2 separate regions of the Homo sapiens genome follow, and region 2 is linked to region 1. A link means that fine-mapping ties the variant in region 1 to the expression of a gene that starts in the linked region. Tissue or cell type: non-classical monocytes. Region 1 holds a variant in brackets; the other region holds the start of a gene. All regions are shown on one strand. Distances are from middle to middle.

Region 1 (8,264 bases):
TTAAAAATCCTGCTGCTGGCCCCAGGCAGATGGGAGGAAAGCGATAACCAATGGAAACATTCATTAACATTCCTTCCTCCTCTGGATGAGTAGGACCTCGGTTATCTGTTGGTCCAGGCATCCAGACACTATCATTAATATAAACCTCCACCAGGGGGTCTAACCATGTAACAGACCTAATCAGTGGGGGAATGGAATGTAGGCCCAATAAATGTAATTTTGATCTGCCCCAGCTACGGGGAGACTCACCGCCAAGGAGATTACTGCCATCATAGCTATCATTAGATTACTGGTGGTCAGCAGCTTGTTCTGAGACCTCAGGTTCTCGTCTGCAATGTGAGCTAGTCTCCTCATCTGCCCACAGGTCGGTGGAGTTGCTTGGCAAGTTTTACTGGTTTCCATCTGCTCAACAGAGATGTTCATCTGAGCCATCTGATGAACCAGGGGTGCAGGGACATTCCGAGGTCTTTTCCTCTTCCTTGGATTCTGGCTCATGGCACAGCTTAAGATGTCTTGTGGGTACCCAGACAGGAAGCTGATTCTCTCCTGGCAAGATACAAGCAAAACCCTCGACCCCATGTAATGATTTTGCCCTTTTCCCAAGTTTGGTTCTGACGTCCTTCCACTACATGTTTTCCTTCATGAGGATTTATTTTTTGTCCTGTCAAATGCTGCTCTGCTGCCGTTGTAACCTGATCTCTAGACAAATTCAAAAAATTTAAAGTGATAAGAGCCAATTATAGCTGCATATGGAGAGTAGAGTGTTCTCTGGTTCCCCCCTCTGTCTTTTGTTTTTGTAATTGAGATTTTAAGGTTCGATTAGCCTGTTCAACAATGTCTTGGCCTTGAGAATTACAGGGTATTCCACTACTGTGCTCAATGTGCCATTGTTGAAGAAACGCTTGTGAAGATTTACTATAGTAGCCTGGGCCACTGTCTGTTTTAATCTTTTGTGGGATGTCCATGGCAGCAAAACAAAAAAGTAAATGTCTTTTAATATGAGCAGCTGCCTCACCTGTTTGGCAAGCTGCCCATACAAAATGAGAAAAGGTATCTATAGTAACATGGACGTATGAAAGTTTCCTGAATGAAGGTACATGGGTTACGTCCATTTGCCACAACATATTGTGGGTTAATCCCCACGGATTAACACCAGTCCCTTCACGTGGCAGTTGTAGTACCTGGCACTGAGGGCAATGTTGCACAATGTCCTTTGCCTGTCTCCAAGTAATCTGACATTTTTGTTTAAGTCCTGCTGCTAACATGTGTTAGGGAGTGAAAATCTTGGGCATTAGTAAGCACAGTGGAAACTAGCAAATCAGCTTGATAGTTAGCCCTTACAAGTGGCCCTGGGAGATTAATGTGTCCTCAAATGTGCATAATATAGAAAGGAAAACAGCGATCATGCACTGCCTTTTGTAAAGAAGAAAACAGCTGATAGAGTTGTTCATCTGCAAGATATTTAGTGAGTGCAGTTTATATGTATTGAGTGGTTTGAACAACATAAGCTGAATCAGAGACAATATTTACAGGTTGCTTAAAGTCTTCTAACACAGCTATAACTGCCTGTAATTCAGTCCTCTGTGCTGATTCAAAGTCAGTTTGAATAATTCTGTTTTTAGGTCCAACATAAGCTGCTTTTCCATTGCTAGAGCCATCTGTAAACACAGTCACTGCTCCTTCCAATGGAGTACTATGGGTAATTTTTGGAAGGACCCATGTTGTTAGCTTTAAAAACTGAAAAATTTTGTTTTTTGGATAATGATTGTCAAGAACTTCAGTGAAGCCAGCTAAATTTATTTGCCAATTGACTGAATTAAGAAAGGCTTGCTGAATCTGATTTTTATTCATTGAAACTATAATCTTATCTGGATCTGAGCCACAAAGTTTAACAACTCTAAGGCGAGCTTGTCCAATCAAGATTACGATCTGGTCCAAGTATACTGTGAGTGTTCTAACAGTATTGTGAGGCAGAAAAGAACATTCAACTAAGTCCTCACTCTGAACTATAACCCCTGTAGGAGAATGGAAAGTAGGGAACACAATGAACTATAATGGTAAACTTGAGTCTATTCTATTAACCTGGGCCTGTTGTATTTTTTCTTCAATCATTTGTAATTCTTTGGCAGCCTCAGGAGTCAGTTCTTGTTTACTATTGAGAGCAGGGTCTCCTCTTAAAATAGAGAACAGATTAGACATAGCATAGGTAGGGATTCCCAAAGTAGGTCAAATCCAATTGATATCCCCTAGTAATTTTTGAAAATCCTTTAAAGTTTTCAGAGAGTCTTTTCGAATTTGAACCTTTTGGGGTTTAATTGCCCTTTCCTGAACCTGCATTCCCAAATATTGGAAAGGAGTGACCGTTTGAATTTTATCTGGTGCTATGAACAATCCAGCACTGGCTACCACCTCCTGTAAATATGAATAACACTGGATAAGTTGGTCTTGATTTTCGGCTGCACACAATATGTCATCCATATAATGAATGATATACGAATCGGGAAACTGATCTCTCACAGGTTGAGTAGCCTTCCCCACAAAAGTTTGACAAATAGTAGGACTATTCAACCTACCCTGCAGCAGGACTTTCCAATGATATCTGGCTGCTGGTTCCCTGTTGTTTGTTCATAGCAGGAATAGTAAAAGCAAATTTCTCAAAATTAGACTCTGCTAGAGGAATATTACAAAAGCAATACTTCAAATCTATAATTATTAATGGCCAGTCTCTAGGAATCATGGTGAAGGATGGAAGCCCTGGCTGCAGGGACCCCATTGGCTGGATGACTGCACTGACCACTTGTAAGTCGGTTAGCATGTGGCATCTGCTGCATTTTTTTATTTATTACAAACACTGGCTAATTCCATGGAGAAAATGTGGGCTCAATGTTTCCTTTGTTTAATTGCTCTTTGACTAATTCCTGTAAGGCCCCCAATTTTTCCTGAGAAAGCAGCCACTGCTTGACCCAAACAGGATTTTGGGTCTTCCATTTTAAGGGAATAGGATTTGGAGGCTCAACGGTGACTGCCCCTAAAAATGGTAACCTAATCCTGTTCAGTCATTTTTTACAGTAACCTGTATGGGTTCAGTAATGCCCATCTCCTGTTTTCCTAGGCCTTTTCCAGGAACATAGCCCATGTTTGACATTATTTTTTGACTGGCTTGACCATACCAGGGAGAAGGGATTGAAATTTCTCTGCCCCATTTGTGAAGCAGATCTCTCCCCCATAAGTTAACAGGAATGGATGTAATTAGAGGTTGTATTGTGCCTTCCTGTTCTTCTGGACCAAGACACGGTAAGATAAAAGTACTTTGGAAAACTTCTGAAGCAGTTCTGACCCCAACAAGACCCACTGGGGCCTTTTGTTTGGGCCAGTTTTTTGGCCATTGATAAAGAGCTATGATCGACACATCTGCTCCTGTGTCGACCAGACCCTCAAATTGTTTTCCTTGAATAG[T/C]GACCATACAAATAGGACTATTGTCAGAGACTTGATTTACCCAATAGGCAGCCTTGCCTGCTGAATTCGTGCTTCCAAATCCTCCTGTTCTTTTTTCTGAGCTTTCTCCTAACTTAACATATGGTAAAAGCAACATTTGAGCTATTCTGTCACCTGGATTAGCACTCCAGGGAACAGTGGAGGAGATAACAATTTGAATTTCTCCCTGGCAATCAGAGTCCACTACTCCAGTATGTACTTGAATTCCTTTTAAGTTTAAGCTGGACCTTCCCAGTATAAGTCCCACTGTGACATTTGGCAATGGGCCATAAACTCCCATTGAGACCTTCCTAGGAGGCTCCTCAGGAAGGAGGGATACAGCTTCCGTACAGCATAAATCTACTGCCCTGCTTTTAGCTGTGGAGGGGGACAATTGCTGTACATTTGTACAGGGATAGGCTGGGCCAGGAACACTCTGTTTGGAGTCAGGGATGTCCCATCCTGAATTGGGAATGCCCCATTTTGAATCGGGGCCCAGGGCTGGCCCCTCTGTCTGCTTCCTGGCAAGGGCTGTCCTCTGTTATCAAACTTTGAATGACATTGATTAGACCAGTGTTTTCCTTTTTTACATCTAGGACAGGTCCCTGGTTCCCTGCTTTTTCCTCCTGAGTTTTGCCTTTTTTGGCTCTTTCTACATTCTCTTTTTGTATGTCCTATCTGTCCACAATTATATCAAGATCCAGGGAACACTCGTGTGTTTTTTGTTACCCTTAGTCCAGCCATTGCCTGAGCAAGGAGGATGGCCTTATATAAGTGATCCCTAATGCCACTGCAGGCTTTAATGTATTCACTTAAAGTTTTTTCCTCATTTAGATCTGCCTTTCCCTTAATAGGTCTAATTGCTGCCTGACATTCTGTATTAGCATTTTCATAAGCAAGCAGTTGAACTTTCCTGGCATGAGAATCCAAAATAGCCTTTGAGCTGTGTCTTGCAAACGGGCGATAAAATCTGGATGAGGCTCCCTTGGACCCTGTCGAACTGAGTTAAAAGAAGGATAAGTAGTACCAGGGTCATGAATTTTTTCCCAGGCTCTTAGGCATATACTTCTGAGCTGATCAACAGCCTCATCACCCATTACCATCTGTTGATTTATAGTACCTCATGCCTGTCCGATTCCAAGCAATTGATCAGATGTGATATTAATGGGAGGTTGAGCTTGAGCATTTCTGCATGCCTGATTTGTTGCTTCATCTGTACACCAGGCTTTAAATTGCAGAAATGGAGAGGGGGATAGGGTGGATTGGGCTAATGACTCCCAATCCATAGGTATTAAACACCTGTTATAAGCCACAGATTGTAACAAGGAATGAACATAAGGAGAATTCGGCCCATATTGTCCTATTGCTTGCTTTAAGTCTTTTAATATTTTAAAAGGAAATGGCTCCTAGCGTGCTTGGGCATGTTCTCTGGGCTCCTCAGCTGGCGAAATAATTACCAGAAACTGCCAAGCATCCAAATCCCTGATTTCTCATCCCTGGCGAATGGATGCCTGGATTGTCCCTGTGCCATAATTTGTATTTGGGCCGGCTTGCAGCATTCCTTTACTATAATTAACAGGTGGACAAGCCTGGATCATTCCCTCACTGTAATTGGCTGTTGGGCCAGCCTGAAGCTTCCCTTTGCCACAGTTAATGGTGGGGCGTGCAACAATGGGAGTGACAAGCTGCATCTCAGGCTCTCATTTCAAAAATTCATAAGGCTGAGGTGGGGGTGGCCATTCCGGACCTTCCCCTAAAGGCACAGTAGGTGGCACTATTTCTGCAGTAGGTGGAACTGTTTCTTTCATAAGTTTTTGGAGGTTAGCATATATAGCTTCCTGTTTCTTCCCCTTTTTAAAATTAGACTGTGATGGTTCACTTTGCTGATCATCAGAATCCTGATTATTAAACTTTTCTATGTCATCCTGAAACTCCTTCTCCTCCTCAGCGTGGAAGGGCTCTAGTGCTGTTTTAATTGCTGACCACACAGACCAAGCGGAGAAAGGAATATCGTGGCCCTCTTGTTGTGCTCGTTTTAAGTCTGATCCAACCTTGTCCCAATCTTTTACATTCATGGTTCCATATTCCAGGAACCAAGGAGAATACTTTTCTACGAGATGGAACAAAGATGTGAGATTTTGGGTACTCACAATTACCCCCCACCACGGCACAATAACTGCCGCACCAGGCTTAAGTAATTAACAAACTTACTTTCAGCCTGACCCATATTTTCCTGAGGTTACCCTGGAATTCTCCAAGTGCCCTACTTACCCATAGAGCCTGAAGTAAAAACGTACTCAGGCATCCTTCATCAGTCGTCCTCCACTTTCCACACTCTGGCGTTTCTTCACTGGATTATTTGTAGAGATTATGGGGAGCCCCATGTTGGGCGCCAGATGTTGGGGAAACCAGCCCCACATCACCCAGCGGGTACACTGAGTCTAGAGGAAACAAAGGAGTTAGAAAGAGACAGAATAGCGTTTAAAAGGCGGGTCCAGGGGACTGGAGCATCGGAGGCTTGCTCACAGCCCAGAGCTCTCAGGCTCTGCCCCAATTTATCGGTTTACAAGCTCTTTGTTCTTAGGGCAGATGGGAGGGGGAGGAAGGGATGAGGAAAAGGATTAATCAGTGAAGGAGAACTCATGAGTCATTCGATAAGATGTATAGCAGTGGCGGTTTCTGTGAATTTCCTTGAACAAAGGCGTGTGTCTAAACTACTTAAGATCTTGAACTTATCGGGACTGAAATGGGTTGGAGCAGGTTTCAGGAGGAGCCAAGATGTTTGATTATACTCCACTGCTTCAAGGGAGTGTTATCTCCCTGAGCAACCTGTGGAATGCCACTGAGCAGTTATGCTCTTCGGGCATAAAGACATGAAGGCAATAAGGAGACTTTTCTCCTCAGAGGCCGCCCATGGCTTCCCATGTGTGTCTCACACAGGGGAGTCCAACTCAACTGGCACCTCAGAAACTCTCTTTCTCACAGGTCTCGAACTCTTGACCTCAGGTGATCCACCTTCCTAGGCCTCCCAAAGTGTTGGGATTACAGGTGTGAGCCACTGCACCCAGCTAAAACAGGTATTTTAATACATCCCTTATACATTAACTTATGTTAAAGAAGGTAGAGGAAGTAATGAGCTTGATGGAGATATAAATGAAAGACATAAAAAGAGATTTGAAATAGAACTCTGGGCCAGGTGTGGTGGCTCATGCCTATAATTCTAGCACTTTGGGAGGCTGAGGTGGGTGGATTGTCTCAGCTCAGGAGTCCGAGTCCAGCCTGGGCAACATAGTGAAACCCCATCCCTAAAAATACAAAAAATTAGCTGGGCATGGCAGTGTGTGCCTGTAATCCCAGCTACTTGGGAGGCTGAGACAAGAGAATCACTTGAATCCAGAGGCAAAGGTTGCAGTGAGCCGAGATCATGCCATTACACTCTAGCTTGGCCGACAGAGTGAGACTCCACCTCAAAAAAAAAAAAGAAAGAAAAAAAGAAATAGAACCTCTGAATATGAAAAATACAACATCTGAAATGAAAAGTACACTGGATAGGATTAATAGCAGCTTAGACATCATAGAAGAAAAATCAAACTGAAAGATACAGAGAAAAAAAGACTGGAAGAAACAGCGAGAACACCATATTAGAGATTCATGAAATATCATTAAGTGGCCTGGTGTACATTTAATTTGAGTCCCAGAAAGAAGAGATAAAAGGGGAAGATAGAACTCCTAGGGTCAAACAATCCTCCCACCTCAGCCTCCAAAGTAGCTGAGAATATAGATGTGCACCATGACACTGGGATTTGACTTGTTTTTAAGTTCACTGATTCTCTTCTTAGTTAAGCTGAGTCTGCCAATAAGCCTGTCAGAGCTATTCTTCATATTTGTTACCATGTTTTTTTATTTTTAGCACTTTCATTTGGTCCTTTCTTATAGTTTTCTTCTCTCCTGACAGTCTTTTTTTTTTTTTTTTTTTTTTTTTTTTTTTTTTTTTTTTGAGATGGAGTCTCACTGTGTTGCCCAGGCTGGAGTGCAGTGGCACAATCCTGACTCACTGCAACCTCCACCTCCCAGGTTCAAGTGATTCTCCTGCCTCAGTCTCTTAAGTAGCTGAGGCTATAGGTACGTGCCACCATGCCTGGCTAATTTTTGTGTAGTTTTAGTAGAGGTGAGCTTTCACCATGTTGGCCAGGCTGATCTCAAACTCCTGACCTCTAGTGATCTGCCTGCCTCGGCCTCCTAAAGTATTGGGATTGCAGGCATGAGCCATGTCGCCCAGTCAGTCCTCATCTCTTTATGCATGTTTTCCTCCTTTTCCACTACAGCCTTTAACATGTTAATCTTAATTATTTTAAATTCTCCATATAATAAGTGGATTATTTTAAAGGTCTTCATCCTCATTGTCTTCACATCAAATAGGCTGAGGAGGAGAAGGAAGGGGAGGGGTTGGTCTTGCTATCTGAGGAGCGGCAGAGGCAGAAGAAAATCTGCATGTAAGCAGACCCACACAATTCAAATCCGTGCTGTTCAAGGGTCAACTGTAGTTGGAAGCTATGATGATGGTTTTAGTGTATACTTTTAGTAGAATGATGTAGTTAATTTTGTATAATTAACTGCATTTATGAGTCTTTAAACTTAAAAATGATAAGGAAAACTATCTCCTTAGTTTTAAAGTTGCTTTAACAGGCAGGGCAAGGTGGCTTACACCTGCAATCCCAGCACTTTGGGAGGCCAAGGTGGGTGTTCAGGAGTTCAAGACCAGCCTTGAGGTCAGGAGTTCAAGATCAGCC
Region 2 (8,000 bases), 530 kb before region 1:
CTTTCCACAAGCTGAGGAGTCTCTTGCCATGGCCACTTCCACCCCAGGCCTGTGGTGGGTACTGTCTGGCTACTGCTGATGTATACTCAAGGCCCAAGGGCTCTGCAGTAAGCTTGTGGTGAACGCTGCCCAGCCTGGGACTCACCCTTCAGGGAAGCAGGCTCCCCTCTGGCCCAGAGCAGGTCCAGGAATGCTATCTAAGAGCCAAAGCCTGGAATCAGGGACCTTAAGAGGCCACTTGGTATTCTAACCCCACAGTGGCCAAGTCCCCTTTACTCTTTCCACTTCTTTTCTCAAGCAGAAGGAATTTCTCCCCATAGCCACCACAGCTGTAATGTGCTGGGTCACACCTTAAGCCTGCACGTCTCTGAGTCTCACCCAAAGCCCATGATGAGTACTACCTGGCTACTTCTGATTATTCAGGGCCAAAGGGCTCTTTAGTCAGCTGGTGAGGAATCCTGCCAGGACTGGTCCTTCCCTTCAAGGCAGCAGGTTCCCTTCTGGCCCAGGGTGTGGCTAGAAATGTCAGCTTGGAGCTATGGCCTGGAATGTGGGCCTCAGGACTTTGCCTGGTGCCCTATCCTACTGCAGCTGAGCTGGTATCCAATGCAAGACAAACTCATCTTTGTTCTTCCCTCTCCTCTTCTCAAGCAGAGGAAAGAAGTCTCTCTCTGAGCTTTGAGCTGCCCTGCCTGGGGTTGGGAGAGGGGTGGTGCAAGCAATCCCTTGGCCATCCCAGCTAGTGTCTCACTAGGTTGTGTGCCCCCCACATTCACTGGCTCTGAGCCCAGCACAGCACCAGGACTTACCCAGGAATTGCCATCCTTGTGGCCTAGACTGCCTTTCAAGTTTATGTAGAACCTCAGAGCACTTCAGCCCATGGTGGGGAGGCTTACTGGAACTCAGGTTCCCACTGCTGGGATGGGTGATTTGCCTCTAGCTAGGGCTGGTCTAAATGATCCCTCCATGGGACCTGGGTGAGTTCTTCCCAGTGTTGCTTTGTGCTATGACTGGGCAGCACTGAGTTCCAATGCAAAGTCTGAAAATCACTGCACTCTTCCTCTCCCAGAAGCACACATTCTCTCTCCATGCCAGGTGGCCGCTGCCGGCGAATGGGGGAGAGATAGCATTTAGCAATTCAAGACTGTCTTACCCTCTTCAGTTACTCTTTCAGTGATACGAAGTTAAAACCAGGTACTGTGATCACTCACCTGATTTTTGGTTCTTATGAAGGTGCTTTTTTTTGTGTGGATCATTATTCAATTTGGTGTTCCTGCAGGGAGCAGGATTAGTGGAGGCGTCTATTCAGCCATCTTGCTCCACCTCCCCTAGCTATGTCCTTTTAAATATTTATAATCGACATACAATATATTACACTTAAAGTATACAATAAGTTCTAAAATATAACTGAAATCATCATCGAACTCTAGATAATTAACATATCCATCAACCCTAAAGTTTCCTCATGTTTAGATGATCTCCTTTCCCTCTAGAAACCACTCATCTACTTTCTGTCATATAGATTATAGTTTGCCTTTTCTGGAGTTTTATATAAACAGAATCATATAGTATATGTTCTTTTCTGTCTGACTTCTTTTATTTACCATGATTATTTCATCCATGTTACATGTATCAACAGTTTATTCCTTGTTTGTTGATGATAGTATTTCATTGTATGGATATATACTCCAATGGGTTTATTCATTTACCTGTTGATGTATGTTGGATCGTTTCTAGTTTTCAGCTATCACAAATAAAACTGCTATAAACATTAAACATTAATGTCCAAGTCTTTGTATAGACATATGCTTTCATTTTCTCTTGGGCAAATACCTTGGGTGGAGTGGCTGGATATTATGGCCAGTGTATGTTTAACTTTATAAAGAGCTGTCGAAGTGTTTTCCTTTTTCTTTTTTCTTTTTGAGATGAAGTCTTGCTCTGTTGCCCAGGCTGGAGTGCAGTGGTGCAATCTCGGCTCATTGCAACCTCTGCCTCCCAGGTTCAAGCAATTCTCCTGCCTCAGCCTCCTGAGTAGTTGGGGTTACAGATGCCTGCCACCATGCCTAGCTAATTTTTGTATTTTTAGTAGAGACAGGGTTTCACCATGTTGGCCAGGCTGGTCTCAAACTCCTGATCTCAAGTGATCTGCCCGCCTTGACCTCCCAAAGTGCTCAGATTACAGGTGTGAGCCACCACATCCAGCCCCAAATTGTTTATACCATTTTATATTCCTACCAGGATTGTATGAGAGTTCCAGTTCTTCTAAATTCTTGCCAACATTTACTACTTTGAATAAATGTTCATTGTAAAAAAATTTTAAGAGGGTTATATAGGGGAAAAAAAGGCCGCTATTAATCTGTTAATTGCACTACTGGGAGATAAAGCTATTAAACTGTCATATTTGTGGCTGGGCGTGGTAACACATGCTTGTGATCCTAGCACTTTAGGAGGCTGGGGAAGGAGGATCACTTGAGACCAGGAGTTCGAGACCAGCCTGGGCAACACAGCAAGACTCTGTCTCCACAAAAATATTAAAAATTAAAAAAAAAAGAAATTGTCATGTTTGTAGACTTCCCAAATTTGCCATCCTAGGCAAACAGTGCTCTTGTTTTTAAACAAATAGTTGTATACATAATTTTCCCCCTCACTATTCAAAACATGTCATAAATGGTAAGTCCAAGAAAAATACAGGTATTCCCCCCCAAAGAAAACTGTAAAATCGACTTTTTTCTATCTGTACTGTTTTTTATTGGTTTTTAAATTGGTTTTCCAAGTGAGTAAATCAGAATCTATCTGTAATGGATTTTAAATTTAGTGTTTCTCTGTGATGTAGTAAACAAGAAACTAGAGGCAAAAATAGCCCTGTCCCTTGCTAAACTTCTAAGGCACTTTTCTAGTACAACTCAACACTAACATTTCAGGCCTTTAGTGCCTTATATGAGTTTTTAAAAGGGGGAAAAGGGAGGGAGCAAGAGTGTCTTAACTCATACATTTAGGCATAACAATTATTCTCATATTTTAGTTATTGAGAGGGCTGGTAGAAAAACTAGGTAAATAATATTAATAATTATAGCGCTTATTAAACACTACAGAACACTTACTATGTACCAGGCATTGTGGGAGGCTCTCTCTTGTGCATTATCTCATTTCATTAGGTCCATGGAGAGTATTGCATTTTCTTAGTTTAGGCATGGCCTCCACAATAAAGATTATCAAAAGCCTAAAAATATGTAAAAGAAACCTAGAAGTTATTTGTTGTGCTCCTTGGGGAAGCTAGGCAAATCCTTTCAACTGAAAACCATGGTGACTTCCAAGATCTCTGCCCCTCCCCATCGCCATGGTCCACTTCCTCTTCTCACTGTTCCTCTTAGAAAAGATCTGTGGACTCCACCACCACGAAATGGCGGCACCTTATTTATGGTCACTTTAGAGGGTAGGTTTTCTTAATGGGTCTGCCTGTCATGTTTAACGTCCTTGGCTGGGTCCAAGGCAGATGCAGTCCAAACTCTCACTAAAATTGCCGAGCCCTTTGTCTTCCAGTGTCTAAAATATTAATGTCAATGGAATCAGGCCAGAGTTTGAATTCTAGTCTCTTAGCCTTTGTTTCCCCTGTCCATAAAATGAATGGGGGTAATTCTTTCCTCCTACAGTTTATTTATATATTCACTAATTCATTCATTCATCCATCCATTCGTTCATTCGGTTTACTGAGTACCTACTATGTGCCAGCCCCTGTTCTAGGGTGGAAACTAAGAGAATGATGTACCTAGAGGGCGCTGGAAGCTCTAAAGCCCTAGCAGTTACTGCTTTTACTATTAGTGGTCGTTTTTTTCTCCCCCCCGCCCCCCGACAAATCAACAGAACAAAGAAAATTACCTAAACAGCAAGGACATAGGGAGGAACTTCTTGGCACAGAACTTTCCAAACACTTTTTCCTGAAGGGATACAAGAAGCAAGAAAGGTACTCTTTCACTAGGACCTTCTCTGAGCTGTCCTCAGGATGCTTTTGGGACTATTTTTCTTACCCAGAGAATGGAGAAACCCTGCAGGGAATTCCCAAGCTGTAGTTATAAACAGAAGTTCTCCTTCTGCTAGGTAGCATTCAAAGATCTTAATCTTCTGGGTTTCCGTTTTCTCGAATGAAAAATGCAGGTCCGAGCAGTTAACTGGCTGGGGCACCATTAGCAAGTCACTTAGCATCTCTGGGGCCAGTCTGCAAAGCGAGGGGGCAGCCTTAATGTGCCTCCAGCCTGAAGTCCTAGAATGAGCGCCCGGTGTCCCAAGCTGGGGCGCGCACCCCAGATCGGAGGGCGCCGATGTACAGACAGCAAACTCACCCAGTCTAGTGCATGCCTTCTTAAACATCACGAGACTCTAAGAAAAGGAAACTGAAAACGGGAAAGTCCCTCTCTCTAACCTGGCACTGCGTCGCTGGCTTGGAGACAGGTGACGGTCCCTGCGGGCCTTGTCCTGATTGGCTGGGCACGCGTTTAATATAAGTGGAGGCGTCGCGCTGGCGGGCATTCCTGAAGCTGACAGCATTCGGGCCGAGATGTCTCGCTCCGTGGCCTTAGCTGTGCTCGCGCTACTCTCTCTTTCTGGCCTGGAGGCTATCCAGCGTGAGTCTCTCCTACCCTCCCGCTCTGGTCCTTCCTCTCCCGCTCTGCACCCTCTGTGGCCCTCGCTGTGCTCTCTCGCTCCGTGACTTCCCTTCTCCAAGTTCTCCTTGGTGGCCCGCCGTGGGGCTAGTCCAGGGCTGGATCTCGGGGAAGCGGCGGGGTGGCCTGGGAGTGGGGAAGGGGGTGCGCACCCGGGACGCGCGCTACTTGCCCCTTTCGGCGGGGAGCAGGGGAGACCTTTGGCCTACGGCGACGGGAGGGTCGGGACAAAGTTTAGGGCGTCGATAAGCGTCAGAGCGCCGAGGTTGGGGGAGGGTTTCTCTTCCGCTCTTTCGCGGGGCCTCTGGCTCCCCCAGCGCAGCTGGAGTGGGGGACGGGTAGGCTCGTCCCAAAGGCGCGGCGCTGAGGTTTGTGAACGCGTGGAGGGGCGCTTGGGGTCTGGGGGAGGCGTCGCCCGGGTAAGCCTGTCTGCTGCGGCTCTGCTTCCCTTAGACTGGAGAGCTGTGGACTTCGTCTAGGCGCCCGCTAAGTTCGCATGTCCTAGCACCTCTGGGTCTATGTGGGGCCACACCGTGGGGAGGAAACAGCACGCGACGTTTGTAGAATGCTTGGCTGTGATACAAAGCGGTTTCGAATAATTAACTTATTTGTTCCCATCACATGTCACTTTTAAAAAATTATAAGAACTACCCGTTATTGACATCTTTCTGTGTGCCAAGGACTTTATGTGCTTTGCGTCATTTAATTTTGAAAACAGTTATCTTCCGCCATAGATAACTACTATGGTTATCTTCTGCCTCTCACAGATGAAGAAACTAAGGCACCGAGATTTTAAGAAACTTAATTACACAGGGGATAAATGGCAGCAATCGAGATTGAAGTCAAGCCTAACCAGGGCTTTTGCGGGAGCGCATGCCTTTTGGCTGTAATTCGTGCATTTTTTTTTAAGAAAAACGCCTGCCTTCTGCGTGAGATTCTCCAGAGCAAACTGGGCGGCATGGGCCCTGTGGTCTTTTCGTACAGAGGGCTTCCTCTTTGGCTCTTTGCCTGGTTGTTTCCAAGATGTACTGTGCCTCTTACTTTCGGTTTTGAAAACATGAGGGGGTTGGGCGTGGTAGCTTACGCCTGTAATCCCAGCACTTAGGGAGGCCGAGGCGGGAGGATGGCTTGAGGTCCGTAGTTGAGACCAGCCTGGCCAACATGGTGAAGCCTGGTCTCTACAAAAAATAATAACAAAAATTAGCCGGGTGTGGTGGCTCGTGCCTGTGGTCCCAGCTGCTCCGGTGGCTGAGGCGGGAGGATCTCTTGAGCTTAGGCTTTTGAGCTATCATGGCGCCAGTGCACTCCAGCGTGGGCAACAGAGCGAGACCCTGTCTCTCAAAAAAGAAAAAAAAAAAAAAAGAAAGAGAAAAGAAAAGAAAGAAAGAAGTGAAGGTTTGTCAGTCAGGGGAGCTGTAAAACCATTAATAAAGATAATCCAAGATGGTTACCAAGACTGTTGAGGACGCCAGAGATCTTGAGCACTTTCTAAGTACCTGGCAATACACTAAGCGCGCTCACCTTTTCCTCTGGCAAAACATGATCGAAAGCAGAATGTTTTGATCATGAGAAAATTGCATTTAATTTGAATACAATTTATTTACAACATAAAGGATAATGTATATATCACCACCATTACTGGTATTTGCTGGTTATGTTAGATGTCATTTTAAAAAATAACAATCTGATATTTAAAAAAAAATCTTATTTTGAAAATTTCCAAAGTAATACATGCCATGCATAGACCATTTCTGGAAGATACCACAAGAAACATGTAATGATGATTGCCTCTGAAGGTCTATTTTCCTCCTCTGACCTGTGTGTGGGTTTTGTTTTTGTTTTACTGTGGGCATAAATTAATTTTTCAGTTAAGTTTTGGAAGCTTAAATAACTCTCCAAAAGTCATAAAGCCAGTAACTGGTTGAGCCCAAATTCAAACCCAGCCTGTCTGATACTTGTCCTCTTCTTAGAAAAGATTACAGTGATGCTCTCACAAAATCTTGCCGCCTTCCCTCAAACAGAGAGTTCCAGGCAGGATGAATCTGTGCTCTGATCCCTGAGGCATTTAATATGTTCTTATTATTAGAAGCTCAGATGCAAAGAGCTCTCTTAGCTTTTAATGTTATGAAAAAAATCAGGTCTTCATTAGATTCCCCAATCCACCTCTTGATGGGGCTAGTAGCCTTTCCTTAATGATAGGGTGTTTCTAGAGAGATATATCTGGTCAAGGTGGCCTGGTACTCCTCCTTCTCCCCACAGCCTCCCAGACAAGGAGGAGTAGCTGCCTTTTAGTGATCATGTACCCTGAATATAAGTGTATTTAAAAGAATTTTATACACATATATTTAGTGTCAATCTGTATATTTAGTAGCACTAACACTTCTCTTCATTTTCAATGAAAAATATAGAGTTTATAATATTTTCTTCCCACTTCCCCATGGATGGTCTAGTCATGCCTCTCATTTTGGAAAGTACTGTTTCTGAAACATTAGGCAATATATTCCCAACCTGGCTAGTTTACAGCAATCACCTGTGGATGCTAATTAAAACGCAAATCCCACTGTCACATGCATTACTCCATTTGATCATAATGGAAAGTATGTTCTGTCCCATTTGCCATAGTCCTCACCTATCCCTGTTGTATTTTATCGGGTCCAACTCAACCATTTAAGGTATTTGCCAGCTCTTGTATGCATTTAGGTTTTGTTTCTTTGTTTTTTAGCTCATGAAATTAGGTACAAAGTCAGAGAGGGGTCTGGCATATAAAACCTCAGCAGAAATAAAGAGGTTTTGTTGTTTGGTAAGAACATACCTTGGGTTGGTTGGGCACGGTGGCTCGTGCCTGTAATCCCAACACTTTGGGAGGCCAAGGCAGGCTGATCACTTGAAGTTGGGAGTTCAAGACCAGCCTGGCCAACATGGTGAAATCCCGTCTCTACTGAAAATACAAAAATTAACCAGGCATGGTGGTGTGTGCCTGTAGTCCCAGGAATCACTTGAACCCAGGAGGCGGAGGTTGCAGTGAGCTGAGATCTCACCACTGCACACTGCACTCCAGCCTGGGCAATGGAATGAGATTCCATCCCAAAAAATAAAAAAATAAAAAAATAAAGAACATACCTTGGGTTGATCCACTTAGGAACCTCAGATAATAACATCTGCCACGTATAGAGCAATTGCTATGTCCCAGGCACTCTACTAGACACTTCATACAGTTTAGAAAATCAGATGGGTGTAGATCAAGGCAGGAGCAGGAACCAAAAAGAAAGGCATAAACATAAGAAAAAAAATGGAAGGGGTGGAAACAGAGTACAATAACATGAGTAATTTGATGGGGGCTAT

Which allele goes with the higher level. Positions count from the first base shown, and alleles are read on the strand shown. Sizes are in standard deviations (SD) of each study's normalised expression.
With allele C in place of T in region 1, the expression in non-classical monocytes of the gene that starts at base 4,329 in region 2 is higher (large effect, 1.0 SD a copy in Schmiedel 2018).

The links. PIP is the estimated chance that this variant, and not a neighbour inherited with it, causes the effect.
Region 2: PATL2 starts here. The variant in region 1 is fine-mapped to the expression of PATL2 in non-classical monocytes (Schmiedel 2018, PIP 0.95).

What each region holds. Positions count from the first base shown.
Region 1 is chr15:45,236,616-45,244,879 of GRCh38, forward strand. No RefSeq gene overlaps it. Among named protein-coding and RNA genes, the nearest start is that of SLC28A2, 11 kb to the right of the region's middle. The variant T/C (reference allele first, on the strand shown) is at 3,457.
Region 2 is chr15:44,706,995-44,714,994 of GRCh38, forward strand. PATL2 (PAT1 homolog 2) reads right to left here and starts at 4,329. Exons shown (of 18, transcript NM_001387263.1): 1 at 4,026-4,329; 2 at 3,877-3,935; 3 at 3,102-3,220. B2M (beta-2-microglobulin) reads left to right here and starts at 4,523. Exons shown (of 4, transcript NM_004048.4): 1 at 4,523-4,619. The coding sequence starts at 4,553. RefSeq lists an enhancer at 4,344-5,006.